Linked DNA regions of Homo sapiens. The protein of the gene in region 2 binds, or shares a complex with, the protein of the main gene of each other region. Each region holds a gene or a part of one and is shown on either strand. Other genes may lie near its edges. The genes, in order: TAB1, OGT, ZNF831 and CSNK2A1. A codon is read from its position in the direction of its gene.

Region 1 (7,582 bases), on a different chromosome or scaffold from region 2:
CAGGAGTTCATGACCAGCCTAGGCAACGTGGTGAAACCCTGTCTCTACTAAAAATATGAAAGTTAGCTGGTGTGGTGGTGCACACCTGTAATCCCAGCTACTTGGGAGGCTGAGGCACAAGAATCACTTGAACCCACGAAGCAGAGGTTGCAGTGAGCCGAGATCACACCGCTTCACTCCAGTCTGGGTGACAGTGAGATCCTGTCTTCCCCATACACCCACAAAAAAGCTTTTTGCTTCAAAAGACCTTTCAAGGTACCACAGTGCCTGCAATGATGCTCCCACCAAGTGATCTACCAAGTGGCCCCAGCATACCCTTGCAAATGCCATTCCTGCAAACCTCCACTGACCCAGACCAATCAGGCCACTCTGCAGCCCCTCAACACATAGACTTGTAGTACTAATTGTACTTAACTTGTGAAAAGCTTAACAAACACATGCACACATATTTAAACACCTGTCCTTAGCCAGATGCGGTGGCTCATGCCTGTAATCCCAGCACTTTGGGAGGCGAAGGCAGGAGGATTGCTTGAACCCAGGATTCTAGACCAGCCTGGGCAACATGGCGAAACCCCATCTCTAGGAAGAAAAATGAAAACAAAAACACACGTGTCAAGAAAACACACATACACATCCTCCTGGAATGGCCCTCCTCTCCTCTGCTTGGCAAACTCCTCTCATCCTTTAAAGCCTCTAAAATTCTCTGCTGTCTGCCCAGGGCTCTTGACACAGGTCTACAATAACAAGACAGTGCCCCAGGTATTGTATCAGTGGCATATGCTCCTCCCAAGCTGATCTACAAACGCAGTGAGGGTGGGCACCACGCCTCATTCATATTTGCCCAGTAGCCACAGACCAGCAGCCCTCACAGCCATCTCTGAATGCAGGTGTCTGAGCTGAGTTGTTCTCCCCAGACTTGAGACAGTGGATGTGACATCAGCAAGCCCTACACACCACCTGGACATCCATACAACCTGTGAGAGGGATGTCCTGATCATCATGAGGGCGGAGGGGCCTTCTGATGACATCCCTGCCATCCCTTTGCCACGCACCAAGATGCAATGTGTTTAAAGCTAACTATTCTTGCTTTAAAAAAGGCCACCACCACCTGGAGAAACACATTCTGGGGCTAGTAGAGCTGGCCTTCTGCCTAACACAATTCCCTTTGGTTCCATCACATCTAGGAAGGGGAGAAGCTGGCAGCCACCTACTCTACATGACCCAGGTGGCTGCTCTCTTCTCAGCAAGCCAACTCAGCCTGCACCATTTACAATTTTCCCTCCCAATGTCACAATCCAACCAGCGTTTCCCAAATGCTAACTAGAGTGGGGACAGTTATACAGGGACCTTGCCCTCTGGGAACTTACAAAGCAGAGGGCCAGCCGTCTAAAATCAATGCCAACTCGGTAACAAGACAGACGTGCCCAGCAGTAATAAAATAAAGGAGTAGTAAAGGTGTGGAGGGGAAGACAGCAATCCCCACTGGGGAGGCCTGGGAACTGTGCTCCTGGGAGAATAATTTCAAGGCTCTGGTTCCAGGTTATCCCTGAGCCAATGTCTACTCACCTCTGTGACGCCAAGGGCGAGCACTGGACCTGGCTACAAACCTTTACTCATCCTTTCACAAATGTATTTATTGAGTGCCCAGCACATGGTGATAGATAATAGAGACACAGCGGTAAACAAGAGATCACAGGTCCCTGTCCTCAAGGAGTTTACTTTCGTTTTTTTTTTTTTTTTTTTTTTGAGACACAGTCTCGCTCTGTCGCTCCAGGCTGGAGTGCAGTGGCCCGATCTTGGCTCGCTGCAAGCTCCGCCTCCTGTGTTCAAGCTAATTCTCCTGCCTCAGCCTCCCGAATAGTTGGGACTACAGGCGCCCCCACCACGCTCGGCTAATTTTTGTATTTTTAGTAAAGACGGGGTTTCACCATGTTGGCCAGGATGGTCTTGATCTCCTGACCTCGTGATCCACCCGCCTCAGCCTCCCATAGTTCTGGGATTACAGGCATGAGCCACCGCGCCCGGCGGAGTTTACTTTCTAGTACAGGAGGCAGACAAGTCCATAGACAATTCTAACAGTGCCATGCATAGGAAGGACCCAGGAGGCCAGCACCCTACCCTGGTAGGTCAGAGTAGTCCATGGTGCCAACATGTGTGTGCATCTATGTGCACATACGCGTCAGAGGACGCAGGGCCTGGAAGACAGCGCCAAACCCATGAGGGTCCAGACCGGGGGTAGGGATGAGTCTGAAGACAATTCTTCCACTCAGCGCTCTCGCCTTAGGAGAAGGAAACTGAGGCTGAGGGAGACACAGTCAGAGCCAGGACCAGAACCCAGTGACAGCTACCACTGGTCATTCCTTTAGTACAGCCCAGGGGTTAAGGGGGTTTCTGGAATCACACTGCCTGATTTTAATCCTGCCTCAATACGTACCATTTGTGTGGCCTTAGGCAAACGACCACCTCAGTGTCTCAGTCTGTCAAATAGGAATAACAGTAGCACCTATCTCAGGGGGCTGCTACGAAAATGAAACTGACAAATGTAAAGCAATTAACACAACGCCGGGGATGCAGTAAGCGGTACACTGTGGATGCTGCTGTTATTATCATTGCACGTCTGCTCGGTGTCGCAGTGGGCTCGAGACTCGGATAGCTCTGCTGCCGCCCGCCGTGTTCCCTTCTGGCTCCAGGACGCTCCCGCCCTCGACGCCCGGCAGCAGCAGCCCACAGCCCCGGCGCCCTTGACCCGGGGGCCGGGCCCGCCGCGCACACACGCCCTGGCCTCGGGAACGAGGGGGCCAGCCCGAGGAGAGGAGAAGGTGGCTGACACACCCCACCACGGAGAGGGTGGCTGTCCAAACTCGGAGAAGGAGCCGTTCCTGCACCCGACAGCACCCCCGCCCAGGCTCCCAACCCCAAGCCCAGAGAGCGGGCCTGTTCCTCACACTCTGCAGCAAGCTCCTCCTCTGCGCCGCCATCTTGGAGGAACCCCTGCGGGAGCGCCCGCCTCCCCGCAGAGCAGCGAGTGGGGCGGCTAGAGCGGCCCGAAGGAGGCGAGGATGACCGCGCTGCCGGGGAGCATGCGCCCAGCGCCACCCCACGCCCGAAGAGGGATGGGGGTCGTAGCGGACCGTGTGCGCAGGCGCGCTCTTGCACGTTTTGTTGTTGTTGTTGTTGTTGTTGTTTTGTTTTGTCTTTTCCTCGGGGCCGATTGCTCCTCGCCCATCTTTATTATTTTTTGAGATAGGGTCTCACTCTGTCACCCAGGCTGGAGTGCAGTGGCGCGATCACAGCTCCCTGCAACCTCTGCCTTCCGGCCTCAAGCGATTCTCCTTCCTCAGCTTCCCGAGTAGCTGGGATTACAGGTGCCCGCCTCTCCTGCCCCAGCCTCCGGAGTAGCCGGGACTACAGGCATGAGCCACCACGCCCGGCTAATTTTTGTATTTTTAGTAGAAACGGGGTTTCGCCATGTTGGCCAGGCTGGTCTTGAACTCCTGAGGGTTCTTTGTGAACACAGTTGGTAAGGGGAGGACAATTCATTCACTCAGCAAATGCTACCTAGGTGACCCTGCTTGGCTCTATAGTGGGTTCTGCAGCGAGCAGGACAGGCCTTCAAAAAGCTAACATTTTATTTTATTTTATTTCATTTCATTTTATTATTATTTTATGTTATGTTATGTTATGTTATTTTTGAGACGGAGGCTTGCTCTGTCGCCCAGGCTGGAATGCAGTGGCGTGATCTGGACTCACTGCAACCTCTGCCTCCCGGGTTGAAGCGATTCTCCTGCCTCAGCCTCCCGAGTAGCTGGGGTTACAGGCGCCCGCCACCACGCCCAGCTAATCTTTTACATTTTTTGTAGAGACGGAGTACCGCTATGTTGGCCAGGCTGGTCTCAAACTCCTGGCCTAAAACGATTCTTCTGCCTGGGCCTCCCAAAGTGCTGGGATTACAAGTGTGAGCCACCCCGCCCAACCTAAAATGTTAACATTTTAATTGGAGAGGACAACATTTATGTATATAAGACATTCTGCCGGGGGCAGGCGCGGTGGCTCATGCCTGTAATCCCAGCACTTTGGGAGGCCGAGGCCGGTGGATCACCTGAGGTCAGGAGTTCGAGATCAGTCCAGCCAACATGGTGAAACCCCATCTCTACTAAAACTACAAAAAATTAGCCAGGCATGGTGGTGCACGCCTGTAATCCCAGCTACTTGGGAGGCTGAAGCAGGAGAATCACGAACCTGGGAGGTGGAGGTTGCAGTGAGTGAGCTGAGATCACTCCACTGCACTCCAACCTGGGCAACAGAGTGAGACTCTGTCTTAAAAAAAAAAAAAAAAAAAGCACACTTGTCACGGGAGCCCACTGTGGCTTGCACAGAGTTGGAGGAGAGAGATGAAGGGGTTGTAGGGACAGGCTCTGACCAAGTGGGCCCCAGGCAGGAGTTTATTCATCTGGAGGACAGAGGGAAGTTGTTGCCTTCTAAGCAAGCCATTGACAGGGTCCCATTGGTAGAGAGATGTTTGACTCCCAGGTTCAAGCGATTCTCCTGCCTCAACCTCCCAAGTAGCTGGGATTACAGGCATGCGCCACCACGTCTGGCTAATTTTGTATTTTTAGTAGCGATGGGGTTTCTCCATGTTGGTCAGGCTGGTCTTGAACTCCCGACCTCAGGTGATCCACCTGCCTTCGCCTCCCAAAGTGCCGAGATTACAGGCGTGAGCCATTGCACCTGGCACCTGCCTGCTTTTTATAAAATTAAACAAACATTCATTTGCAAGCCATCTCTCCCTGACCCCCACCATTTAAAAAAAAAAAAAAAACAGGTTCTCACTGTGTTGTCCAGGCTGGAGTGCGGTGGCACAATCATGGCTCATTGCAGCCTCAAGCTTCTGGGCTCAAGTGATTCTCCCACCTCAGTCTCCCGGGTAGCTGGGACTACAGCATGTGCCACTGCGCCCGGCTAATTTTTGTATTCTTGTAGAGACAGGCTATCACCATGTTGCCCAGGCTGGTGTCAAACGCCTGAGCTCAAAAGATCCTCCCGAGCTGGGCGCGGTGGCTCATGCCTGTAATCCCAGCACTTTGGGAGGCCGAGGTGGGTGGATCACGAGGTCAGGAGATCAAGACCATCTTGGCCAACATGGTGAAACCTCGTCTCTACTAAAAATACAAAAAATTAGCCGGGTGTGGTGGCATGTGCCTATAGTCTCAGCTACTTGGGAGGCTGAGGCAGGAGAATCGCTTGAACCCGGGAGGCGGAGGTTGCAGTGAGCCAAGATCGCGCCACCGTACTCCAGCCTGGGCGACAGAGTGAGACTCTGTCTCAAAAAAAAAAAAAATTAGATGGACATGGCAGTGTGTGGCTATAATCACAGCTACTCGGGAGGCCGAGGCAGGAGAATTGCTTGAACCTAGGAGGCGGAGGTTGCAGTGAGCCGAGATCACGCCAGTGCACTCCAGCCTAGCAACAGAGTTAGACTCTGTCTCAAAAAAAAAAAAAAAAAAAAAAAAAGATTCTCCCTGCTTGGCCTCCCAAAGTGCTGGGATTACAGGCATGAGCCACCGCGCCCGGCCACCACTGTCTTTGTTTTTAAAACCCCTGCCTCCCAGGGATGTTACAAGGATTCAATAAAGTAACATCTTCCAAGCCTTTAGAACAGGAACAGAATCTGCTCCAAATATGTGGCTTCTCTTCCCTTCCCCAGACCCATTTCCCCATGATCATGCCATATGCTTCTACCATTTCACCTTGGGATGCTGCCAACAGTTCCAAAAACACAGAAGGTGCTTCTGAAGGCTGCGCCATTGGGCGCCCCAACTGCTTTTCGGCCAGTTATCACCTTTATCAAGATATCCTTGCTCATCAGGCCTGTGACAAACTGAGTGGAGCCAGAAGCCCAAGAGAGGGGGCAGTTAATTCTGCTGGGGGAGTCAGGGAAGACTTCACAGGGGAGGTGACCTTCCAGCTGGGTCTGGGAGGGCAGAGGGATTGAGCAGAGAAGATAGAAAGCGCATCTCAGGCCAAGGGATCGCATGGTCAAAGTGAGGGGGGAACTGGCAAAGGCAGAAATTGACTGTGGCCGAGCTGAGGAGAACAAATCAGGGAGGGATATGGGTGCAACAGAAGCAATTGGCTTTATCTTGTAAGGGTAGGGACTCATTTAAGTGGGAGAGTCACATGATCATATTTGTGTTTCAGAGGGATCCCACTGAGTCAGACAGGAAGCAGGGAGACCAGTATTAGGAGCCTGCTGGGATAACCCAGATAAGAGAAGGAAGGAGGTGGCCGGGACCAGGATGGTGGCCATGAGGATAAAAGAAATGGACAGTTTTCAAAAATATCCAAATAGGTCAAGTAGAAAGACTCTGGCAGTTGATTGGAAGCGGAAGAAAGGGGAGTGGAAGATGACTCCCAGGTTCCTGGCCCAGGCCGTCGGCCCAGTGGTGGAGGATCTGCCGAGACAGGGCCACTAGAGGAGGGCCAGGTCTGGGCCTGGCAGGTAGACAGAGAGCGCAGGGGGCAGAGAGGATGCTGAAACATTCACAGTGTGCAAAGCAGCATGTTACTCTATGCATTTGAGGCATCTGCTATGGAAGAGGAGAACCAAGGCAGTGACAGAAGGGATGGTTTGAGAAATATTTAGGATGTTAAGTCAACAAGATCTGGCGTATGCTTGGGTTTTTGAAAAGAGGGACAAATCTGGGATAATACCCAGGGGGATGACTGGTAGATGATGGTGCCTTTTACTTAGATGATGAGCACAGAGAAAGGAGGAGATTTGGTGGGAAGATTCATGCGTTAATTCAACAATCCTCAATAGAGCACTTAGTACATGCCAGGTAAGCAGGGACAAGAACACTGCCCTTATGAGACTTCCACATTCGGTGAGGAGAGATAGGTAATAAATAAACTAGTAAGTATGTCAGGTGGTGACAAGTGCTATGGAGGAAAACAAAGTGGAGGTGGGCTGCCTTTTTTTTTTTTTTTTTGAGATGGAGTTTTGCTCTTGTCGTCCAGGCTGGAGTGCAATGGCATGATCTCGGCTCACCGCAACCTCCACCTCCTGGGTTCAAGTGAGTCTCCTGCCTCAGCCTCCCGAGTAGCTGGGATTACATGCACACAACACCACACCCGGCTACTTTATTTATTTATTTTTTTTTGAGACAGGGTCTCACTCTGTCACCCAGGCTGGAGTGCAGTGACGCAACCACAGCTCACTGAAGCCTCGACCTCCCAGGCTCAGGTGATTTTCCTGCTTCAGTCTCCCGAGTAGCTGGGACTACAGGTGTGCCACAACACCTGGCTAATTTTCCATTTTGTTTTTTGTAGAGACAGGGTTTTGCGATGTTGCCCGGGCGGGTCTCAAACTCCCGGGCTCAACTGATCTGACTGCCTCGGCCTCCCAAAGTGCTAGGATTACAAATATGAGCCACTTGGCTGGGCGTGGTGGCTCACGCCTGTAATCCCAGCACTTTGGGAGGCCGAGGTGGGTGGATCACGAGGTCGGGAGATTGAGACCATCCTGTCTAACACAGCGAAACCCCGTCTCTACTAAAAAATACAAAAAATTAGCCGGGCATGG
Region 2 (7,019 bases):
TCTAGAGGTCAGAGATCTTTGCCTTACACTCTCTTGATAGAGCTACTTATTTAAGCATGCAATATATTATTTATTGAGTACATACTACATTACTGTGATTAAGACATGGGCTCAGTAATTCAATTCAGTAGAGGATACAAACACAGGGAATTATCATCTGTTGTGCTGTATGTAATGATATATTCCAAACATTACAGAGGTATAAAAGACAGGTACCAATGAAGTAGGGATGGAGACGTTAGCGGTAAGTACGGAAATGGATTCCTGGAAGAGCTGTCTGAACTGAACGTTTGAGTAGGATTTAGCTAGGGAAAGGATGGGTTTACAGAAGCAAGAAACTGTATGGAATCTACACATAGTTCATCATGTAAGAGAGTAAAGCCACAGGCAGGGAATAACAAGATATTAACACAGCAGTTTCTCAGTAAGTAATAATCTGCTGGCTGAATCCAGGAGACTTTTAAAATCAGACACACCTATATAAGATGCACGTTTCCACTAAACTCATTTCCTCATCCATAAAAATGGTGATAATGATACTTGCCTCCTAGAGTTATCATGAGGTTAAGGGAAATAAATGCATACTTGGCGGGACATATAATGGTGTATTATTATCTTCTCACCTGAGTAGTTGCCAGTCCATTGCTAATACTGAATCCATTAATTGTTATTTGAATCTGTCCTCGGTTAATCATTTCAATAACTGCTTCTGCAATAGTATTCATAGGAATAACAGGCATATTAAGAGCTGTGTTACTGCTATCTGCATTGTCTCCTCCATCAGGACACTTCATCTGAAAAAAAAATGCATCATTAGGGAAAAGATCGTGAATGCAGTTAACTTTATTTCAATGACAATACTGACTAGGTTCTGACCTTGACAATTTTCACATCTGGTAGACTATCAAGAAATGCTTTGAGGTCGATGCCATTCAGAACTATCCGATTGTCATAAATGTGCCCATTGGACTTAAAATCGATGACTGCTTTTTTCTAATGGAAAAAATAGTTTCAGACATGTCTTTTAGGATTTACATAGACAATAGCAAGGAAATAAAAAGCTACAGTTCTTTGAAATTCGTCCATAGCACTGTTTCATACCTACCTTCAGGTGAGGGAACATATTAGCATGATCACCAATAAAAAAAGTGTGGGGCATATAAGCCAATTTCTCGGAATACTGCTCAGCAACTTCAGCTGGCGAAGTTTCCTGATCAGTGATAATATAATCCATGAAAAGCGCACCACTCGTCCCAGGGTATCCCAGCCACATTGCCTTAAAAAAATCAGATCAAAAACTGATTAAGAACTTTTATCAGTACACTTACCTCTAAATTCATCAAGTCACATACATTAAATATGTACAACTTTTTGTATGTCAACTGTACCTCAATAAAGTGGTTTTTAAAAAAAGAACCTAAAGGTGCCAAAATTAAATAAGTAAATAAACAAGGAGGTCTAACTCTTTTTTAGAGACAGGATCTCACTCTGTTCCCTAGGCTGGAATACAGTGGTGCAATCGTAGATCACTACAGCCTCAAACTCCTGGGCTCAAGCAATCCTTCTGCCTCAGCCTCCAGAGTAGCCAGGATTACAGGCACTTGCCACACGCACAGCAAGGCTGACTTCTTTAGCCGAAAGCAATGAAGCAGTTCTATAAGAGAGACTCTTACTCTGTCACCTGGGCTGGAGTGCAGTGGCATAGTGATAGTTCACTGCAGCCTCAAACTCCTAAGCTTAAGCAATCCTTCCACCTTAGCCTCCCAAATAGCTGGGATCACAGAGGCACACCACCACTCTGGCTAATTTTTTAATTTTTTGTAGAGATAGGGTGTTTTGCTTTGTTGCCCAGGCAGGACTCAAACTCCTGGTTTCAAGAGATCCTCCTGCCTAAGCATCCCAAAGTGCTGGGATTACAGGCGTGAGCCACCATACCCGGCCTGTATTTCAGACTAACTTTCAAAATGCTAAAATGTTCTTCAAATTTGCAAGACAGAGTAACTGTTCATAGCCAACCATGAATTGCATGTCTCTATATACATGTACCTATAAGCACTGTGCTCTACACTCTTTTTGTCCTGTGCATTTCAACAACTTAAAAAAATTAAAAGTATGTCTGCCCTACAGTTTCAAATATCAGTTAACCAGAGGGAGGAAAAGCAGCACCTCACTGTATTCTTAGCCAAATACATGTTATAAGTGATGACTGTTAATTTGTTTACCTGAATAGGAGCTGGCCTGAGAGCAAAAAGCTCATTTCGAGCGCCCTTAGTATAGCCATTCATATTTACAAGGATATGAATTCCATCCTGATGGATGCGATCAGCTGCTTTTCCATTGCATGGAATCTACAGAATACAAAATAAGAACTCACTATGTATAATCTCAGATCAATTAGTTTTAATGACATTTAGTTTTAATGGCATTTAGTTTTAATGGCATTTAACATAATTCAGATTCCCAGATGGAAAAGAGGTAAGAACACAAATTAACTACATTAATTCGGGCACAAATATGGTTGACTGTCATTAAAATGGGCCCAAAGCATTAAAGAAACAGAACACAAAGGAAGGAGAGTTCACTTCTGGATTGAATGTATGAATAACAACATATCACAGAGAAATTGGTATTTGAAATTTGTAATCTTTTTTTTTTTTTTGGTAGGGATGGGGTCTCACTATGTTGCCCATGATGGTCTCAAGCAATCCTTCCACCTCAGCCTCCCAAAGGATTATACACGTGAGCCACAGCACCCAGCCTAGAATTGGTATTTGAAAATAGGTCTTCAAAGACGAATAGGAGTTTGAAGGAGTTTAACAGAATACAATCTCAGTAGAGAACAGTATGAATGAAGAACTAGAGTAAAGTGTGAGGGAGTTTAGAAAATGGTGAGTAGGCCGGGCATGGTGGCTCACATCTGTAATCCCAGCCCTTTGGGAGGCCGAGGCAGGTGGATCACCTGAGGTCAGGAGTTCGAGACCAGCCTGGCCAATGTGGTGAGACCCCGTCTCTACTAAAAATACAAAAATTAGCCGGGTGTGGTGGCAGGCGCCTGTAATCCCAGCTACTCGGGAGGCTGAGGCAAGAGAATCGCTTGAACCTGGGAGGCAAAGATTGCAGTGAGCCGAGATCGTGCCACTGCATTCCACCCTGGGCGACAAGAGCAAAACTCCATCTCAAAAAAAAAAAGGGTGAGTAATTCACTTCTATTTAGTATAGGGTATACAAGATGTTGAATGGTGAGTTAAAGTATTGACAAAGTTGTGGCAAACAGAGAAAGGTTACAAAAGCTATGCTGAAGAGTTTAGACTGCAATCAATCAGCAGTGAGTCCCTAAAGGTCTCAGAGGTAGAAAGAGGTATGCTTCTTGGTCACAAAGAGTCCAACTGTGTATCAAAAATGGCCAGGTATACTTTTGAAGCAACAGCTATACTGCAAAATTTGTTAGTACATACTATTTATTAAATGAGAAGTCTCAAAACCTTTCTGCTAGGACTTCAGTGATTCATATATATATACACATACACATGTATATTTATACATATATGCATACATATCATACCTGCATGTGTATGTACATACATACATGTGTGTACACACACATATAAAGAGTATATTATCTCTATTAGTCAAAGTGGCTAATAGAGTCTACAAAGAAAACACTGTAGCCTACATACTCAGCAAATTAATTCCCCCATAGGTTTCAATCTTAATTTATCATAAAACTTACTCTCCTAGAGGATACAACAATAGAACAAGTACAGAAATAAAGATAACCAAAGGCAAAGGCCCATGGAAACTGATGAACCATAGTTCATCTATTTTTTCTTTTTTTTTTTTTTTTTTTGAGACAGAGTCTTGCTCTTGCCAGGCTGGAGTGCAGTGGTGCGATCTCAGCTTACTGCAACCTCCGCCTCCCGGGTTCAAGCGATTCCCCTGCCTCAGCCTCCCAAGTAGCGGGGATTACAGGAATGCACCACCACACCCAGCTAATTTTTTGTATTTTAGTAGAGACGGGGTTTCACCATGTTAGTCAAGATGGTCTCATCTCCTGACCTCATGATCTGCCCGCCTCGACCTCCCAAAGTGCTGGGATTACAGGCATGAGTCACCACACCCGGCCCTATTTTCTTTAAAAGACCTATTTATTCTTCTCCCAAGTCACCATTTTGTCAATATTTATTAAGTATCTTCTGTCACAAGTGCTGGCTCAATCTCCAGAAAAGTTGTATGTCCAAGCACAAGCATAACACATTTCAGTTTCATTTGCAACCTCGGAAAAAGCCATGCTGATTAACACAAATGATCAAGGAAATAAGATCAACACAATTGCCTATATGTGGTACTACAGCATTTAATACTTATCATCAAAAATAAACTATATGCTAATAGTTTTATTTAAACTTGCTCAAAATAAAAAGTTAAAGTATGAGAGTTTCATCTACCTGAGAAAGATCAATGAAATGATTGGCTTCTGCCATCACCTTCACTCGGAAGTTTGTGCCATCGTCTGGGCTCAGGGCATAACAGAACACCTGAAAGGCAGCACATGGCATATTTAATAACATTGGCTCAAATCTTTCTGGCTCAAATCTTTCCAAAAGACACTAGGTTTCCATGCCTCATGGTGACAAGCCAACATTGTGGGTTTTTTCTTTTTTAAACAAATAGTGATTCTAGAGAAACACTAGTCTTACCTCAAATTTATCAGGATTGTGCATGCCTGGAATAGACTGCATAAGGTGAGAAGTAGGATGATTCCCAAAGTCGGAACTCACATATCCTACACGCAGCCGACCATCACTGAGCTTCAAGTCTTTTGGATGTTCATATGGTGGTTTATGAAGAACATTAATCTATCAACAGAATCCAATGCTTGTTAGTAAAATCTACATAAATTTTCATCTAGGAAAACTGACGAAAAACACACCAAACCTATACCTCACACCTGTTGAAAAAGGTCTGCCCAGAGCATTTAGTTAATATTGCCAGAGAGATGCAACCTCAGCACTTTATGTAATATGCTTCATACTTTGACCTGCTCCTGAGATCTATAAAGCATGAGCAAATCCCAGCGCTCTGGGAAGCCAAGGAGGTGGATCGCTTGAGGTCAGGAGTTCGAGACCAGCCTGGCCAACACAGTGAAATCCAATCTCTACTAAAAAAAAAAAAAAAAAAAAAATTAGCTGGGCGTGGTGGCACATGCTTGTAGTCCCAGCTACCTGGGAGGCTGAGGTGGGAGAATCGCCCAAACCTGGGAGGTGGAGGTTGCAGTAAGCCAAGGTTGTGCCACTGCACTCCAGCCTGGGCAACAGAGCAAGACCCTGTCTCAAAAAAAAAAAAAAAAAAAAAAAAAAGTACGAGCAAATCTAACACTTGTAGGTATGAAGCAGTATGGACAGAGCATGGTTTCCTCCCGCATTTTAGAAAATTCTATAGGGAAACATTTTCTAAAAACAAAATTATGGCTGGGGGCAGTGGCTCATGCCTGTAATCCCAGCACTTTGGGAGGCTGAGGCAGGTGGATCACCTGAGGTCAGGATTTCGAGACCAGCCTAGCATGGCAAAGCCCTATCTCTACTAAAAATACAAAAATTAGCCAGGCGTGGTGGCACACGCCTGTAATCCTAGCTCCTCGGGAAGCTAAGGCACGAGCATCACTTTAACCTGGGAGACAGAGGTTGCAATGAGCTGAGATGGCACCACTGCACTGCAGTCTGGATGACAGAGACACTATGTCTCAAAAAAAAAAAAAAAGTACACCTAGCACTCCAATCTATTATCCAACCTTTGATCCAATCCTTGATCAAGTACTGCTCTAATTCTCAAAGGTGAATACAAAATACCAAGCACTCCATTAAACATGATGGCTGGCCAGGCGCGGTGGCTCACACCCGTAATCCCAGCACTTTGGCCGGGCGAGGTGGGCAGATCACTTGAGCCCAGAGGTTCAAGACCAGCTTGGGCAACATAGCAAAACCCCATCTCTACAAAAAACACAAAATTAGGTGTGGTGGCATGCGCCTGTAGTCCCAGCTACTCAGGAGGCTGAGGTGGGAGGATCACCTAAGCTCGGGGAGGTCAAGGCTGCAGTAAGCCATGATCACACCGCTGCACTCCAGCCTGGGCGACAGAGCAAGACCCCGTCTCAAAAAAAAAAGAAAAAAAAGATAAAAGAAAAAAAAATTATGGCTTTCAACTTAAAGAAAAGTACCATCAGTCTATCATTAGTGTTTAAGTGAAGGAGTTAAGGATTCCGTCTTATGAAGTGCAGGGGGTTATACTCAGGACACAATGGAAGGGGTTCTGAAGTGGCCCACAAAAGTTTTATTTCTCGACTTGGGTGGTGTTCACTTTATAATCGTTCATTAAGCCACAGATTTGATTTTTACAGTTTTCTGTATTTGTGTTTTAGTTTACAACAAAAAGATTAAAACAAAAGAATCACACCTTATCTAAGCACAGGTTGCCGTGCCTCTCAGCAATAGCCTTCCTGAAGCCATGAGAAAGAGGATATAGCATACTATGATGAGGATGCACAGAAGGCAACCTATTCTTCTCTAACTGGTCAGCCACAATACTGACCAACTTCTTCATTCGCTCATCATAGTCTGTCCAATCACAGACAATCTAGAGAAAGCAAAAACAAGTTATTATCCAGAAAGTCCTATCCCAGGATTTAATATTTGATATGTCTTTGGCCTAAAGTAATGTCAGATAGCCTATTAAAAATACTATTTCCAGTCAGGCTTGGATTCTTATGGCATACAACAATTAAAAAGCTATTACAACACTGAGAGCCAATTACTGGCCTGTTATTCTTTACCTGCAGGCAATGAGCCAAGTTACAATAAGCATCAGGAAAATCAGGCTTAAGTTTCAGAGCCGTGCGGTAAGAAGCTATGGCTTCTGGAATATTCCCTGAATCCTGGAAAATAAATAAAGCAGGATGGTAAAAAATTTCCAAAAGTTAAATTTTAGGTGTTAAACTGCACATATTATAATAAACAGTAGTACCT
Region 3 (7,904 bases), on a different chromosome or scaffold from region 2:
CTTCAACAATGAATATTTAAACCAACTGTGGTACATCCATATCACAGAACACTACTGAGCAATAAAAAGAAGCATACCGTTGACACATGAAACATTTGGATGAATCTCTAGAGAATTATGCTGAATGAAAAAAGTCAGTCCCCAAAGGCTACACACCACACTGAATGATTCCATTCATATAACATTCTTGAAATGACAAATTATAAAACTGGAGGACAGACTAGTGATTGCTTGGGGTTAAGGGGTTGGGGGGGAGAGAGAGAGGAGGAGAGCAGGAGGGATTTGGGGTGTCCACGACGCATCCTTGCGGTGACAGAAATGTTCTGTATCTTGACTATATCACTGTCAATATTTTGATTGTGATTTGCAAGATGTTGCTATTGGAGGAAACTGGGTAAAAAACACATGGGATCTCTCTGTATTTTTTTCTTACAACTGCAGGTGAATCTGCAATGTTCTCAAAACAAAGAGGCTAATTTATGAAAGTAATAAATACGTAAATAGAATCAAAACAGGAACAACCTTCCCAGTGTGTGAGTCAATGTTATTTACTGCAGCATCCATAGTGTATCTAGAACCGACCCTAGCCACGAGTACCACAGCCTACCCTTGGAGAAACACCGACTCTGCACAGACCATTTTCCTTTCATTTTCTTTATATCAACTCACTTTTTCTTATGTACCCTTATATATTCAAAGGAAAATTGACATCACTACCATTTACCATATCTGGAAAAGCTCCAACATTGCTATGAATACAAAGTGATCATAAAGAAACTACAAGGGGCTGGGTGTGGTAGCTCACGCCTGTAATCTCAGCACTTTGGGAGGCCGAGGCAGATAGATCACCTGAGGTCAAGCGTTAGAGACCAGCCTAGCCAAAATGGCGAAACCCCTTCTCTACTAAAAATACAAAAAAATTAGCCAGTTGTGGTGGTGAGCACCTATAATCCCAGCTACTCAGGAGGCTGAGGCAGAAGAATCGCTTTAACCCAGAAGGTAGAGGTTGTAGTGAGCTGATCATGCCACTGCACTCCAACCTGGGTGACAGAGCGAGATTACAGCTCCAAAAAAGAAAAAAAGAAGAAAAAAAAAGGAACTACAAGGAAAGCAATGAAAACATACAAAGATCTCTCACTTGGTAACAAGCCAGTACTGAGAACAAGCTTCCTACCTATGCCCCAAAGTCACTCTGCAGAAATCCCTGAGTGTGACCTTCCAGCATAACTCAGCCTTCCCTGCCATGCCACACCCAGACAGGCAGCATGGTGGGTAAAGTTCCCAGACCCTGGAGATAAGACCTGTCTTTGAACCTTTGCTCTGCTACCTATAAACCCTGTAACCTGGAATAAGTCACTTAAACTCTCCATGCTGTGTTTTCCTTATCTGAAAAGTGGGGCTCATGTTCATTTGTTCAAAGGATTGGATAAAACCATAGATGTGATTTGTCCAGACGTGGTAGACTCTCCCTGTGTCTGTTCCTGCCCCACTCCCCTAACCAAACAGCCTACCCTACCTCCCTTTTACAGTCTTGGTTCTCTGCTTACATGATGTTCATGGTCTCTACCAGGAGAAAAGTCTCTCTAGCTGGTAACTCCACGGCGCCTGATAGTGAGCCCATTTCCCCTAGGCAGGTGCTTTTGGGTAACCCTGCTCACATGGCACTCCTCCTTCAGGACCAACCCTCCCCAGCTTCCCAGCGGAAGCACAGCTAAGGAAGCAAATCTCACAGACCCCAACATTGCCACAGAACCTAAGTGTTCTCTCTGATTAATATTAGCCTATGGTCCTAAATACTTGCTCTTAGCTGGGGCAATAAAGCGAGGGTGGTTAAAAGGCATATTATTTTAAACTGGCCCTGACGTTGATTCTGTTTTTCCCAGTCAGCTAATGTTACCATTTTTCTAAGTTGCATCCTGTCCCTCGTTGCATTTTGGTAGATAACATCTCTGGTTTCATTCTTACAGAAAGATTTGCTACGGGAAAGGAGAAACACGTTACCTCTCAGAGCATGGCTTCCATGGCTGATCTGAGATAGCCTCCAGCTCTTTGCTATTTTGGATACTGGGAAGTCAGATATGTGTATAAATACATGGACTATTGGCCCTTGTAAATCTCATTGAAAAATGCTACCCTTGGGTGGCTGATCAGTAGAATTGCTATAAATAGTAGCTCTATCAAATACCTTGATATTTCAATTATATTATATACAAATAAAAAACTTGGCCTAATAAAACATACATATATATGTGTATATATATACCACACATACTTGGGCTAATATGTTCTAACCAATTCACACTTTCAGTTTAATTAGGTTCATCACTGGGAAAAAAAACAGTTTATAAAGCAATAAATTTTCTTATAAATGTTTTTCTGTTTAGTAGAACATGGATTGTGGACCTGGTTTCTGACAGCCATTTTGAATTGTAGTAAATATTTTGACAAAAGCAACAGCAGTATTAAGCACATGAGAGAATTACTTGAACTGGGTCACACACAGTTTTACGTAGCATTTTCCCTTTAACTGCGTGCTTGAAGATAAATATATCATTAAGAACATAGAGTAAAAGAGTTTTTTTTTAACTGACATTTTATATATGCTTATGTCATGGAGCATGTTACATACCTTTATAAACAGTGGAGTGTTTTCAGCCAATGATGCTCTGATTCAAACACAATGATCTGGTTGCCCAGAGAAGACACCCACAGGTCCAGAAAGGACCACTGGGCTGGCCCCACAGAGAAGAGATGAGCTCAAGAGCCCGTGCTCTCACTCTCTGTAGGGAGCTCGCTACTCTTTGCTGAGAGGGCATTTTAGTGTTCTCTCCCAGTTCCTACTCTGCAGGCAGCATCTCAGAGAACGGAGAGATGCTCCCTGAGCCTTAGAAAATAAAATAAAATAAAAGAGGGCAGCCTCCTGTGGCTTGGCCTTTATGTCAAGTCCACGTTTAACTGAGAAAAGCACCATTTCAAGCAACCTGGAAGAGACTCAAGCAGAGATAAAACTTGGTATGGCCCAGAAATAGGAAGTAAATTATTTCCTATACATTACCTAACGTCACGGTAGCAACCCTTAGAAAACAGGAAGAGATAGAAGCAGACACGAAAAAAAAAAAAAAAGAGCCACCGCTCAGCTCTTTAGTAATTGTTACTATTGACCTAACAACCTATAAAGAGCTTGCTGCCCAGAAATGTAGGTGTGCAAAAAAACATTGCATTAGAGATGAGGTTGTTCTGTGCAGGCAAGTTTAAGAATTAGAGCCTAGGTGGTCGTTTTCCTGGAGATGTGGATGGAACAAGTGTTTGCAGAACCTCCACATGTAACCCCAGAGGTTCCTGAGGGCCCAGAATGAGCATTTCCACTGCAATTGACTATGGTGGGAGGTCCCAGTGAAAGATTTCTGCGATGCTGTCTTTATGTAAAATGGTGATATTTTGTTCAACATGGATTTGTTTGAATTAGGTTTTATTTTTAAGATATGGCACTGATCACTCTATTCAACATAGTACTGAAAATCCTAGCCAGAGCAATCAGGCAAGAGAAAGAAATAAAAGGCATCCAAATAGGAAAAGAGGAAGTCAAGTTATCTCTCTTCACTGATGATATGATTCTATATCTAGAAAACCCTAAAGTTGCCACCAAAAGACTCCTAGACCCAATGAATGACTTCAGTAGTTTAAGGATACAAAAATCAATGTACAAAAATCAGTAGCATTTCTATACACCAGTAATGTTCAAGCCGAGAGCCAAATCAAGAACACAATCCCATTTACAATAGCAACACACACACACACACACACACACACACACACACACACCTAGGAATACATCTAACCAAGGAGGTGAAAGATCTCTACAAGGAGAACTACAAAATACTACTGAAAGAAAACAAACAAATGATAAAACACTCCATGCTCATGGATTATAAGACTCAATATCATTAAAATGTCCATACTGCTCAAAGCAATTCAACACTATTCCTATCAAATTACCAATGTCATTTTTCACAGAATTAGAAAAAAACTATTCCAGAATTCATATGGAACCAAAAAGGAGCCCGAATAGCCAAAGCAATCCTAAGCAAAAATAACAAAGCCAGAGGCATCACATTATCTGACTTCAAACTATACTACAAGGCCACAATAACCAACACAGCATGGTATTGGTATAAAAATAGACACACAGACCAATGGAACAGAATAGAGAACCCAGAAATAAAGCTGCACACCTAAAACCAACTGATTTTCAACAAAGTCAACAAAAATAAACAGTGAAAGAAAGGACCCCCTATTCAATAAATGGTGCTGGGGAAACTAGCTAACCATATGCAGAAGAATGTTGAATAGAGTGATTAGTGCCACTCTAATTCCAGAATGAAACTGGACTCTTACCTCTCAATATATACAAAAATTAACCCAAAATGAATTAAATACTTAAATGTAAGACTTCAAACTATAAAAATCCTACAAGAAAACCAAGGAAATACTCTTCTGAATGTCAGCCTAGACAAAGAATTTAAGACTAAGTCCTCAAAAGCAAATGCAACAAAAATAAATATTGACAACTGGTACCTAATTAAACCAAAGTGTTTCTATGTAGCAAAAGAAATAATCAACAATGTAAACAGACAACCTATGGAATGGGAGAAACGATTTGCAAACTATGCAGCCAACAGAGGTCTAATATTCAGAATCTATAAGGAACTTAAACAAACAACAACAAAACCATTAAAAAGTGAGCAAAGGTCATGAAGAGACACTTCTCAAAAGAAGACATGCAAGCAGCCAACAAGCATATTTTAAAAATGCTCATCATCTCTGATTATCAGAGAAATGCAAATCAAAACCACAATGAGATACCATCTCACAGCAGTCAGAATGGCTATGACTAAAAAGTCAAAAAATAACAGATGTTGGTGAGGTTGCAGAAAAAAAAGGGAACACTCACACATTGTTGGTGGGAATGTAAATTAGTTCAACCCCTGTGGAAAACAGTTTGGATATTTCTTAAAGGACTAAAAGTAGAACTACCATTCGACCCAGCAATCTCATTACTGGGTATCTACCCAAAGGAAGATAAATCATTCTACCAAAAAGACACCTGCACTCGTATGTTTATCACAGCACTATTCACAAATAGCAAAGGCATGGAATCAACCTGGGTGCCTGTCAACGGTAGACTGGATGAAGAAAAAGTGGCATATATACACCACGGAATATACAAAGCCATAAAAATAATAAAATCATGTATCCATGCAGCAACATGTAATCCCATGCCTGTAATCCCAGCACTTTGGGAGGCCAAGGCAGGCGGATCACTTGAGGCCAGGAGTTTGAGACTAGCCTGGCCAACATGGTGAAACCCCATTTCTACTAAAAATACAAAAAATTAGCCGGGTGTGGTGGTGCACACCTGTAGTCCCAGGTACTCAGGAGGCTGAGGCAGGATAATAGCTTGAACCCAGGAGCCAGAGGTTGCAGCAAGCTGAGATCATGCCACTGCACTCCAGCCCGGACTACAGAGCGGGACTCCATCTCAAAAAAAAACAAAAAAAAACAAAGACAGTGAGAGTGACTGTAATGTATGGGGTTTCTTTGGGGGTGTTGAAAATGTTCTGGAATTAGATCACAGTGATGGTTGCACAACCTTGTGAATATACTAGAAGCCACTGAATCCGACACTTTAAAAGGGTGAATTGCATGGTATGTGAGTTATATCAATTCAATATAACAAATAAATCCATCACTCCCATTCTAATTTTTCTAAGCACCATGGTACAGATAGACTCTCCAGAGCATGCAACCAATAACCAATGAACTAAGCATGTGGCAACAGTCACCAAAGAAAAAGAAAAATCATTTCCAAAGAATTGTTAACTTGCTTTCTCAGGCCCTTTTTTCTGAAGGAAACAAACAAACACAAAGATATCTCACTCACTTGCCAAGAGCAAGCCTCATTCGGAAAACTGCAGTCTGCATTGACTATTCTTTCAAACAAAACTACCTCATGCAGCTAGAAAAAAAAAAAAAAAGCAGCAAAACCAGGAGGAGACATGAGAAATCCTGTGTGTCCGAGGGAGACTCACGGGTAGAAAGAATAACTCTCTCATTGGCCATGCCCCTCTGGTCTTGCACCATCAGACACACATGCCAGTCCAGAAGCTGTGGTCAGGAGGAGCAGGGACACCCTTCACCTTTGCAGTTCAGTCCCTGGGCCCTTCTCCAGACCCCAAATGTGCAGTCACGTGGCAGGAAGCCCCAGGGAGAGGGGCTGGAGCAGCGCTCTGAGTGGAGCCACCTGGTACACTCAGGGCTAAGTGTGTGGCTGGGTCTCAGCAGGAAACTCGGCCTTGGGGAGCCAACGCAGCCTCACAAGCAAGCTGGGGATGAAGGAGCACCTCTGGGGCCTCAGAGGAATTCGATCAAGAGCGTCCATGAGACAAGCCCCCTGGGCTCCTGCACGGCCCCTCGCCACATCCTTCCTCCCCCCACCATCATGATCCTCTTCTGGGAATTGAACTCATGGCCCCAAGAGTATGTGTCAAATAAATGAATGGGAATAGATGGATATTTCTTGTGTCTATTTTAACCCTCTTATATATACCAAGGAACACAATTTGTGAAGACCCAAGTCCTCCCAAGGTCAGCCATGATGGGTGGTCCTCTCTCCTCTTCTGGAGTCTCCCCAGGGCTGGGCACCTGACAGCCTGTCTTTCGTTCCTGTGGATCCGTCCATTCTCTGGTCTGTGGAGCTTGGTGTCGTGAGCGACTGTAGGAATGTTCGTCTCTGCCTTGGCTGTGCCTGGCCTCACAATGGAACCCAGCATCCAGCACAGGGCCTGGCACAGAGCCAGCCCTCAGTCCACACCTGCTGAATGACAGAGAACTGCGACTCCCTCACTTCCCTGAACTTGCTGGAGAGACCACAGACTTACGCACCAGGTGGAAGCTGATGCCAAAGGCTCCAAAGCACAGTCTATATTCCAATGCAGGTGCTGTCATGCCTTGTCCTGTGGGGGAGGCAGCGGAACCCAGGGCTCCTCTCTGGGGCTCAGCAATGCCCTGCCTCGGGGAGGCACGCACTCCGCTTTCCACTGAAGCTGGTTCCCTCTTGGGGTTTGGTTCCCCTAACATCCACCGCATGCTCTCTCCATTGTCAGAAGAGGTTGATCATCACCAGCCCTGTGCGAGGGAACAGGAAGCTGAACCTGAGGAGCCCCCCTCAGGAAGTAACACTCCTCAGATGTGCGACATTGTGCTGAGGGCCACCGCTCTCATCTCCGTGCATATAGGAAAGTACCTCCCCCTGGAGTGTCATTGGATGAACACCCCATGCAATTATCTGCTTGCACATCCTCAGGGCCACCTCAGCGATGTTTTTATTTAAGGCATGATGCATCCACCCCGTTTTTGATTATCCATGGTAATGGGGGTCAAGGATCAGCTGAATAATTGAAAAGGAAACTTTATTCCCACTGAGAGTTCCTCTCCTCTCCACCTCCTTCCTCCCTTCTGCAGCATCCAAACAGGGAGAGGGGCGCTGTTGGGCCATGGAAGGGGTACTGGGTTGCTAGTCCTTATCTCAGCCCCACCAGGACTTTGTTAGGGATTTGCTTGGTGTTAAGCAAGCCTGAGCTTCTTGGTGGGTCTGTGAAGTAAAGGGCTGTACCACAAGTCATCTGTATTTATTTTCATAACACACCTCTTCAAATTGACTTGCTTTTATCATTTAATTTGTCCCAAGCTATAATAATTGATGTGATATTTTTTGTAATATTCATTAAAATAACTCCATAATTATGGCACTTGAAAAAAGTTATATGAAAAATCACCACCCACCCTGGCTTGGATCCTGGAACAGAAAGAGACATCAGTTGACAGACTGGTGACGTGCACATAAA
Region 4 (7,019 bases), on a different chromosome or scaffold from region 2:
CCAGGTGCAGTGTCTCACGCCTGTAATGCCAGCACTTTGGGAGGCCAAGTTGGGCGGATCACCTGAGGTCAGGAGTTCAAGACCAGCCTGGCCAACATGGTGAAACCCCATCTCTACTAAAAATACAAAAATTAGCTGGGCGTCATGGCGGGCGCCTGTAGTCCCAGCTACCTGGGAGGTTGAGGTGGGAGAATCGCTTGAACCCGGGAGGCGGAGGCTGCAGCAGCTGAGATTGTGCCACTGCACTCCAGCCTTGGCCACAGAGCAAGACCTTGTCTCCAAAAAAAAAAAAAAAAAAAAAAAAAAAAAAAAAAAAAAAAAAAATATATATATATATATATATATATATATGAGAACATTATTATACATTCTTCTCCACTCCTCTTAGACATGGCTCTGCATCTCACTTTTTCTTTTGAGACAGAGTCTCACTCTCACCCAGGCTGGAGGGCAACGGTGCGATCTCGGCTCACTGCAACCTCTGCCTCCCAAGTTCAAGCGATTATCTTGCCTTAGCCTCCAAGTAGCTGGGATTAAAGGCGCCGCCGCCACGCCCAGCTAATTTTTTGTATTTCCAGTAGAGACAGGGTTTCGCCATGCTGGCCAGGCTGGTCTCGAACTCCTGACCTCAAGTGACCCACCCGCCTCAGCCTCCCAAAGTGCTGGGATTACAGGCATGAGCCACTGCACCTGGCCCTGCATCTTGCGTTTTAAATTTCACATTATTATATTGGAGTTGGAGATCTAACAGAACATGAAACTCTTATTCTACTGGCTGCACCACATTCCATTAAATGGATATACCATAACTGATTTAACCAGTTTCCTACTGATAGCTATTCTCAATGTTTTGTTATTACAAATAAGGCTACAAGTAAGTTTGGATATACATTACTCTGTACAGAGGTAGGATACTCAAGGGGTAAATTCTAGAAGGCAGTTAGTTCTTTTCTTAAAAAAGAGGAGGGCAACAGCAATTATTTGAGGATATGTAAGTAAATGCCTTCACTACCAGATATGCACCCACTTGGATGTTGCCTATATGTATAATTCTTATGCTATGTGCCTGTAGTTCCTTTGGAATAACTGGGTACTCTATAAAAATTCACTGTGCGTCACAATGATCCAATAATGGAAAACCATTTTACTTATGTTTTTACAACTGATAGGCACTCTATAGTTGCTCTGGCACATGTCACGGAACTGTCCTTGTACACATACACACCTATGTATAAACCCCACCTCTATACCCCATTTCTTAACATTGTTTCTAAGGGCCATGTAACTACTGTCATTTCAAACTATAAGATGAAATGGTGTATTTTTCCTTTTCATGGCTTGGCACTTTCAAGCCCCTATGCCAAAAATTTTCAGCCAGGAATGCTGAGATTCTAGCCTAGAAGGGGATACCCTACTCAAGACAGTATCACTAAAGTATACCAAATGTCAAGCATGCTGAAACCTGGTTAAAAAAAAGTCACAAGGCCACCAGTACGGAGAAGAGAAGGTATACAAGAAATCAGACCACAAAGCTAAGAACAGTAATTGACTTCCACATTTTTTTAAAGAAAATTTACCAATGAACTGACCTGACATCATATTGGCGCTGCTGACGGGCGTACTGCCCCCTGGCATGCTAGATGAACCCATTCGAGCCTGGTCCTTCACAACAGTGTCTAGAAAAGAGACAAAAAGGCTAGGTTCTGTTTTGCTTGAAAGATTAAACTAATGGTCTGGAAGCCTGAAAGCAGCCAGCTTCATTCTTTGCAATTTATATATACTCTACATTATTCCCCAAAGAACTTAAGGTGGCAATTGCCTTCACCATGAATTAGACAAGTGGTAAAAAGCAGAAATAGCTTTCCTATCAAACTGTGGTAAAAGCTAACCTTTCAATCAAATGGTAGAAAGATGAGGTAATTATTTATAGCAGAGCGAATTTAATGAAGCCCTGGTCCTGTTGAGGTTTAATGGAGACAAGACACTGTAACTCGGCAAAGACGGTAATATATTACCAGTGTGTCCACAGCCCAGTACCAAGTAGGCCAAAGCTATAGGTCCATGTAGCTTAGGGCTATGACCACATTCTCTATCCCAATCAGCCTATCTATCTGCTTCAGGTATTGGGCAAAAGTATAAATGATTCAGTACAAAACCATCACACCGAAGGAAAAATGTCATGTTGCAGCTAACATCACAGTGCAGATGGGGTGGGTCTCAGTGGTATTTTCACTTAGGATGGCACAGGTGGCTATACTCACAAATCTAAGTCAAGGTGTTCATACAATTTTAAGATTTGTAAGCCTCATTAGCTCTTTCCAACGAATGATTACTAGGGACAGGAAAGATACAGGGCTGTGTATTCTAATTCAACCATTCCAGACTGAGGCACTGAGAAGTGTCATCCTCACAGTATGAAAAGAGTTTATTTAGGAATGCTCTTGTGTCATGTATTCTGTTACAGAAGAATTCTTCCAGTAATTCTGCAATGTAGTTGCCATCACTATCCCCACTGGAAGAATCTGAGGCTCAGTGTGGGTGAATTAACTTTGCAGCAAGCTGACAGGAGCTGGGATTACGACTCTGTTCTATAGGACTCTGCGCCTGCACAAACTCTGTGGGCTAGATATCTGGACTCACAGAAATAGGGGTGCTCCATTGCCTCTCTTGCAGTAAGCCGTGACTGGTGGTCATATCGCAGCAGTTTGTCCAGGAAATCCAAGGCCTCAGGGCTGACAAGGTGCTGATTTTCACTGTGGACAAAGCGTTCCCATCGCTTTCGAGAGTGTCTGCAGGACCAAAAGAGGGCATGAGAAATGGGCCACGTGGGCACAGAAGCCCAACATTTCATTCCTACATTTTTCTTAGTGGCTAACAGCCCAGACAAAAGCAAAGAGGGATCCAAACTCAAGAGGGTAGTCTTGCACCGCTCTGCCACTGAGTGGGACAACAAAGCTAACTGGAGACTGGAAACAACATAGCTAGAGTGAAAAAAGACATCTGAGTCCTCTCAATTTTAAGAAACATAATTCAGGTTACTTGACAGGACGTGACCGCTTCTGTGTAGCAAGGAGGGTCAGGTGGCTGAGCTCACCAGGCCTATTTCCCATCCCCACACATATTCCTGGCATCTCTGCCAATTGGCCAGCAAAAGCCTTTGCATCAGGAAAGTCCATCTCCTCCTGTTGAGTGGTTAAGTGTATAAGTACTATATCTAGTCACTACTGTTAAGAGTCGGTTGTCTGCATATAGCCTTTTTTTTTTTTTTTTTGGAGACAGGGTCTCACTCTGTTGCCCAGACTGGAGCGCAGCCACATGTTCATTGCTCTCTGTAGCATTCCCTCCTGGGCTCAAGGGAAGCTCCTGCCTCAGCTTCCTAGTAGTCTGGACTACTGCCACACATCACCATGCATGGAGTCGAGGGTCTCATTATGTTGTCCAGGCTGGTCTCCAACTCCTGGGCTCAAGTGATCCTCCTAAAGTTCTGGGATTACAGATATGAGCCACCGTGCCCAGCCTGCACATCAGTCTTAAAGCATGCATTTTCTACTTCAATTTCTTTCTCTTGGAGAGAGGTTTTTCACTTAAAGAAGCAAGGTAAATTTTGATTTTTGCCTCAACTGTAACCCTTCTACTAGAATCTACATTCATTTTGTAGGAATCCTCTAGCTATAACCCCTCCATCAGACTCCTGTAAGTTAATTTGAATAAAGGGCCATTCAATCCAATGCCTTTATCAGAGGCCTGCTCAATGCAGCATCCTGTGGCACTGGACCACTGACATCCTGACAGTGCTGGCAAAGAAAACATAACTATTTTGAAGATCCTAAGTGCCAGTTCACTCTCAAAGTGCTTAAGCCACAGATGCACATATTTTGTTTCATGACTTACCTGCCCAAGATATCATTGAAACGTGGATCTAATTCAATGTTGTATTTGTCAATATAGTCATATAAATCTTCTGTCCCCAGAACCTTGGCTATCCTCACCAACTAGTATTAAAGAAAGACAAAAACCCATATCACAAGCATATTATATTAACAAATCAACAATTAACAATGATTGAATTTACATAAACGGGTCATCATGTCTACAGGTATGAATGCTACCTCCTAACAGTTTAGACTTCAACTCAATGTGATAGTGTTAGAAAAAGCAAACTACTTTATAAACTGGTTTCTTCCTCTTGAAATGTCACCCTGGTGAACCCTTATTTTTCTCCCCTCAAAACCCAATTGAAGATGTCACTTCTTTTGGGAAGCTCCCATTGCACACTCAAACTACTCACCACTACTGCCTTTTGTGCCTTGTCCACATTTCTACTCTGAAGTTATGACTGTAACCTATTTTGTTGTATGTTTGACTCCCTTACAAGATCAGCTATGAACTATCTGAGGGGAAGAAAACTATTCTTTCTTTTTTCTGTATTCCTCAGTACTGCATGCACTTGATACAGAGTTATTGACTTTAATGGAATTCAGGTTGTATTCTTTGACTCATTAAAATTGGACATGGTGCTCAAAGGGAACAAGACAATGGTACCTTCCACAAGGTCCTAGAATCATTCCAGGTTCTTGTGAATGAAAGAGCCCTTTGATCTTCAAGGGGGAAGTGGAGTTAGTTTAAGAAACATCTGTAACTCAACCCATATAAAGAGCCAAAAGGATCACAGAAATACCACATATGGGCTCACATATTGGAGAAAACACCATATTGGAGATAAGGGTTTATTAGGAGAATTCTAAGGTAATGTCCTATTTTAAAAATCTGGATGACAATTTATATGTATTCTTCACAATAAAATAAGCAATGCAAATGACAAAGACTAGGGGGGAATGTCTGATTTCAAAAGGCTAAGCTGGTAGCTCCCGAAACATCAATCTAAGGATCAATATCGGGGTGGCTGAATAAACAGTGAACTGAAAGTTACAGGCAGTGCTGGCTATCATTGCATTAGGCCAGTACATTTTTCAATGGGTATAACATATATTACCTGATCATAATTGTCATGTCCATGGAAAAATGGCTCCTTCCGAAAGATCATACTTGCCAGCATACAACCCAAACTCCACATATCCAAACTATAATCGTACATCTGCATAAAAGTAAACTCACTGTTATTATCTGTGAATCCTCAGGCTTGTCACTTCAAAATAAAAAATTAATTTTTAAAATTAAAAAAAAATCACTCCACTGACTCAAAATCAAAACACTAATAACATCTTCATATATTTCTTTTTAGTCTTTCTTTTTTTTTTTTTTGGAGACAGAGTCTCACTCTGCTGCCCATGCTGGAGTGCAGTGGCGCAATCTTGGCTCACCACAACCTCCGCCTCCCGGGTTCAAGCAATTCTCCTGCCTCAGCCTCCTGACTAGCTGGGACTACAGGCGCGTGCCACCATGCCTGGCTAATTTTGTATTTTTAGTAGAGACGGGGTTTCACTACGTTGGCCAGTGGTCTCAAACTCCTGACCTCATGATCTGCTCGCCTCAGGTTCCCAAAGTGCTAGGATTACAGGCATGACCCACCGTGCCTGGCTAGTTTTTTCTTTTTTTTTTTTTTTTAGTTTTTTTTTTAGTTTTTTCTTTTATGCATCTTTCACTCGGTTTTAAAACAATTTTTACTTTTTTTTTTTTTTTTTGAGACAGAGTCTTGCTCTGTCGCCCAGGCTGCAGGGGTGTGATCTTGGCTCATTGCAACTCAGCTTCCCAGGTTCAAGCAATTCTCTGCCTCAGCCTCCTGAGTAGCTGGGATTACAAGCGCCCACCACCGCGCCTGGCTAATTTTTTTGTATTTTTAGTAGAGACAGGGTTTCACCATCTTGGCCAGGCTGGTCTTGAGCTCCTGACCTTGTGATCCACTTGCCTTGGCCTTTCCAAGTGCTGGGATTATAGGCGTGAGCCACTGTGCCTGGCTCTTTTTTTTTTTTTTTTAAAGACACAGGGTCTTGCTCTGTTGCCCAGGCTGGAGTGTAGTGGCGTGATCATAGCTCACTGCAGCCTCCAACTCCTGGGCTTAGGCCTCCTGAGTAGGTAGGATTACAGGCATACACCACTATGCTCAGCTAATATACATACTATTTTGAATTGTTTTCTTCACTTACATGAAAAAAAAAAAAAAAAAACCTCCAAATTGTTAGCCCATGGAGACCATCTAATGTGTATCATTAGTATTTTATTACATAAATGTTTCAGAATTCAATCTTTAATTTTCCTATAATAGGACAGTGTTCTGTTTTTCACAATTATTAGTAATACTGTAAAAACTATTTTTATGCATAAAATGCTTTTTGAACTCAGGGCTATAGCCTTAAGACCCCAAGAAAGAAATTCCTACAAGAACAAAAAGTCTGAAACTTTTAAAATCAACTGATAATAACCTGGAAAGACTGGGCATAAAAGATACTCCCAAGAAAACTTCAGATTTTTAAACACTTGGCAAATCTATTATTAATTTGGTTCCTTTCTCCTTTTTCTGTGAGGAGAAAGAAGGCTTTTTGGGGGAGCTGGGGAGAAGACCTTTTTATTTAGTATACAATTCAGAAGAACAAGAAAACATTCTTGAATTTACTCTGAAGATTGGTTAAACTTAGTTACAGGATGGGCATGGTGGCTCATGCCTGTAATCTCAGCACTTTGGGGAGCCAAGGTGTGAGGATGGGTTGTGCCCAGGAGTTTGAGATCAGCCTGGGCAACATAGTGAGACTTTCTCTCTACACACAAAAAAATTAAAAATTAGCTGGGTGTGGTAGTGCACGCCTGTAGTCCCAGCTACTCAGGAGGCTAAGCTGGAAGGATCACTTGAGCCCAGAAGTTCGGGGCTGCAGTCAGCTATGATCATGGCATTGCACTCCAGCCTGGGCAACAGAGCAAAACCCTGCCTCAGAAAACAAACAAAAGGCCGGGCGTGGTGGCTCACGAGGGCAGGAGATCGAGACCATCCTGGCTAACACAGTGAAACCCAGTCTCTACTAAAAATACAAGAAAAATTAGCTGGGGTGGTGGTGGGTGCCTGTAGT

The links.
Region 1: the proteins of OGT (region 2) and TAB1 are in contact, whole or in part, in a crystal structure (PDB 4AY6), measured with the Homo sapiens proteins. Residues at the interface, in NP_858058.1 of Homo sapiens: Asp441 (codon at 6,928), His506 (codon at 6,537), His508 (codon at 6,531), His509 (codon at 6,528), Asn567 (codon at 4,760), His568 (codon at 4,757), Pro569 (codon at 4,754), Gly641 (codon at 2,279), Tyr642 (codon at 2,276), Thr643 (codon at 2,273), Lys644 (codon at 2,270), Ala646 (codon at 2,264), Gln849, Phe878, Pro904, Val905, Ala906, Pro907; in NP_006107.1 of Homo sapiens: Pro389, Val390, Val392, Pro393, Tyr394, Ser396, Ala397, Gln398, Ser399.
Region 3: the proteins of OGT (region 2) and ZNF831 are in contact, whole or in part, in a crystal structure (PDB 8FUF), measured with the Homo sapiens proteins. Residues at the interface, in NP_858058.1 of Homo sapiens: Phe723 (codon at 975), Ile734 (codon at 942), Met779 (codon at 725), Ile787 (codon at 701), Ile790 (codon at 692), Asn791 (codon at 689), Arg792 (codon at 686), Gly793 (codon at 683), Leu808 (codon at 638), Ala809 (codon at 635), Thr831, Arg832, Ser833, Gln834, Tyr835, Gly836, Leu837, Pro838, Glu839, Arg877; in NP_001371283.1 of Homo sapiens: Phe937, Ser938, Pro939, Lys940, Tyr941, Leu942, Leu943, Arg944, Leu945, Pro946.
Region 4: the proteins of OGT (region 2) and CSNK2A1 are in contact, whole or in part, in a crystal structure (PDB 3PE4), measured with the Homo sapiens proteins. Residues at the interface, in NP_858058.1 of Homo sapiens: Lys406, Asp441 (codon at 6,928), Leu502 (codon at 6,549), Pro503 (codon at 6,546), Ser504 (codon at 6,543), Val505 (codon at 6,540), His506 (codon at 6,537), His508 (codon at 6,531), His509 (codon at 6,528), His527 (codon at 6,474), Asn567 (codon at 4,760), His568 (codon at 4,757), Pro569 (codon at 4,754), Tyr642 (codon at 2,276), Thr643 (codon at 2,273), Lys644 (codon at 2,270), Ala646 (codon at 2,264), Gly664 (codon at 1,264), Thr811 (codon at 629), Asn815, Thr819, Gln849, Phe878, Pro904, Val905, Ala906, Pro907; in NP_001349699.1 of Homo sapiens: Pro340, Thr344, Pro345, Val346, Ser347, Ser348, Ala349, Asn350, Met351, Met352.

What each region holds. Positions count from the first base shown.
Region 1 is NC_000022.11:39,395,199-39,402,780, reverse strand, and holds the start of TAB1 (TGF-beta-activated kinase 1 and MAP3K7-binding protein 1), read right to left. Parts: upstream 3,002-7,582; 5' UTR 2,979-3,001; coding exon 2,946-2,978; intron 1-2,945. UniProt on the Homo sapiens protein: Key adapter protein that plays an essential role in JNK and NF-kappa-B activation and proinflammatory cytokines production in response to stimulation with TLRs and cytokines.
Region 2 is NC_000023.11:71,557,104-71,564,122, reverse strand, and holds part of OGT (UDP-N-acetylglucosamine--peptide N-acetylglucosaminyltransferase 110 kDa subunit), read right to left. Parts: coding exon 7,018-7,019; intron 6,929-7,017; coding exon 6,827-6,928; intron 6,631-6,826; coding exon 6,451-6,630; intron 4,857-6,450; coding exon 4,698-4,856; intron 4,536-4,697; coding exon 4,446-4,535; intron 2,349-4,445; coding exon 2,223-2,348; intron 1,277-2,222; coding exon 1,106-1,276; intron 994-1,105; coding exon 877-993; intron 795-876; coding exon 624-794; intron 1-623. UniProt on the Homo sapiens protein: Catalyzes the transfer of a single N-acetylglucosamine from UDP-GlcNAc to a serine or threonine residue in cytoplasmic and nuclear proteins resulting in their modification with a beta-linked N-acetylglucosamine (O-GlcNAc).
Region 3 is NC_000020.11:59,158,933-59,166,836, reverse strand, and holds the start of ZNF831 (zinc finger protein 831), read right to left. Parts: upstream 3,017-7,904; 5' UTR 2,630-3,016; exon of another isoform or gene 1,898-2,629; intron 1-1,897.
Region 4 is NC_000020.11:484,787-491,805, forward strand, and holds part of CSNK2A1 (casein kinase II subunit alpha), read right to left. Parts: intron 5,096-7,019; coding exon 4,994-5,095; intron 3,993-4,993; coding exon 3,892-3,992; intron 2,790-3,891; coding exon 2,641-2,789; intron 1,677-2,640; coding exon 1,590-1,676; intron 1-1,589. UniProt on the Homo sapiens protein: Catalytic subunit of a constitutively active serine/threonine-protein kinase complex that phosphorylates a large number of substrates containing acidic residues C-terminal to the phosphorylated serine or threonine.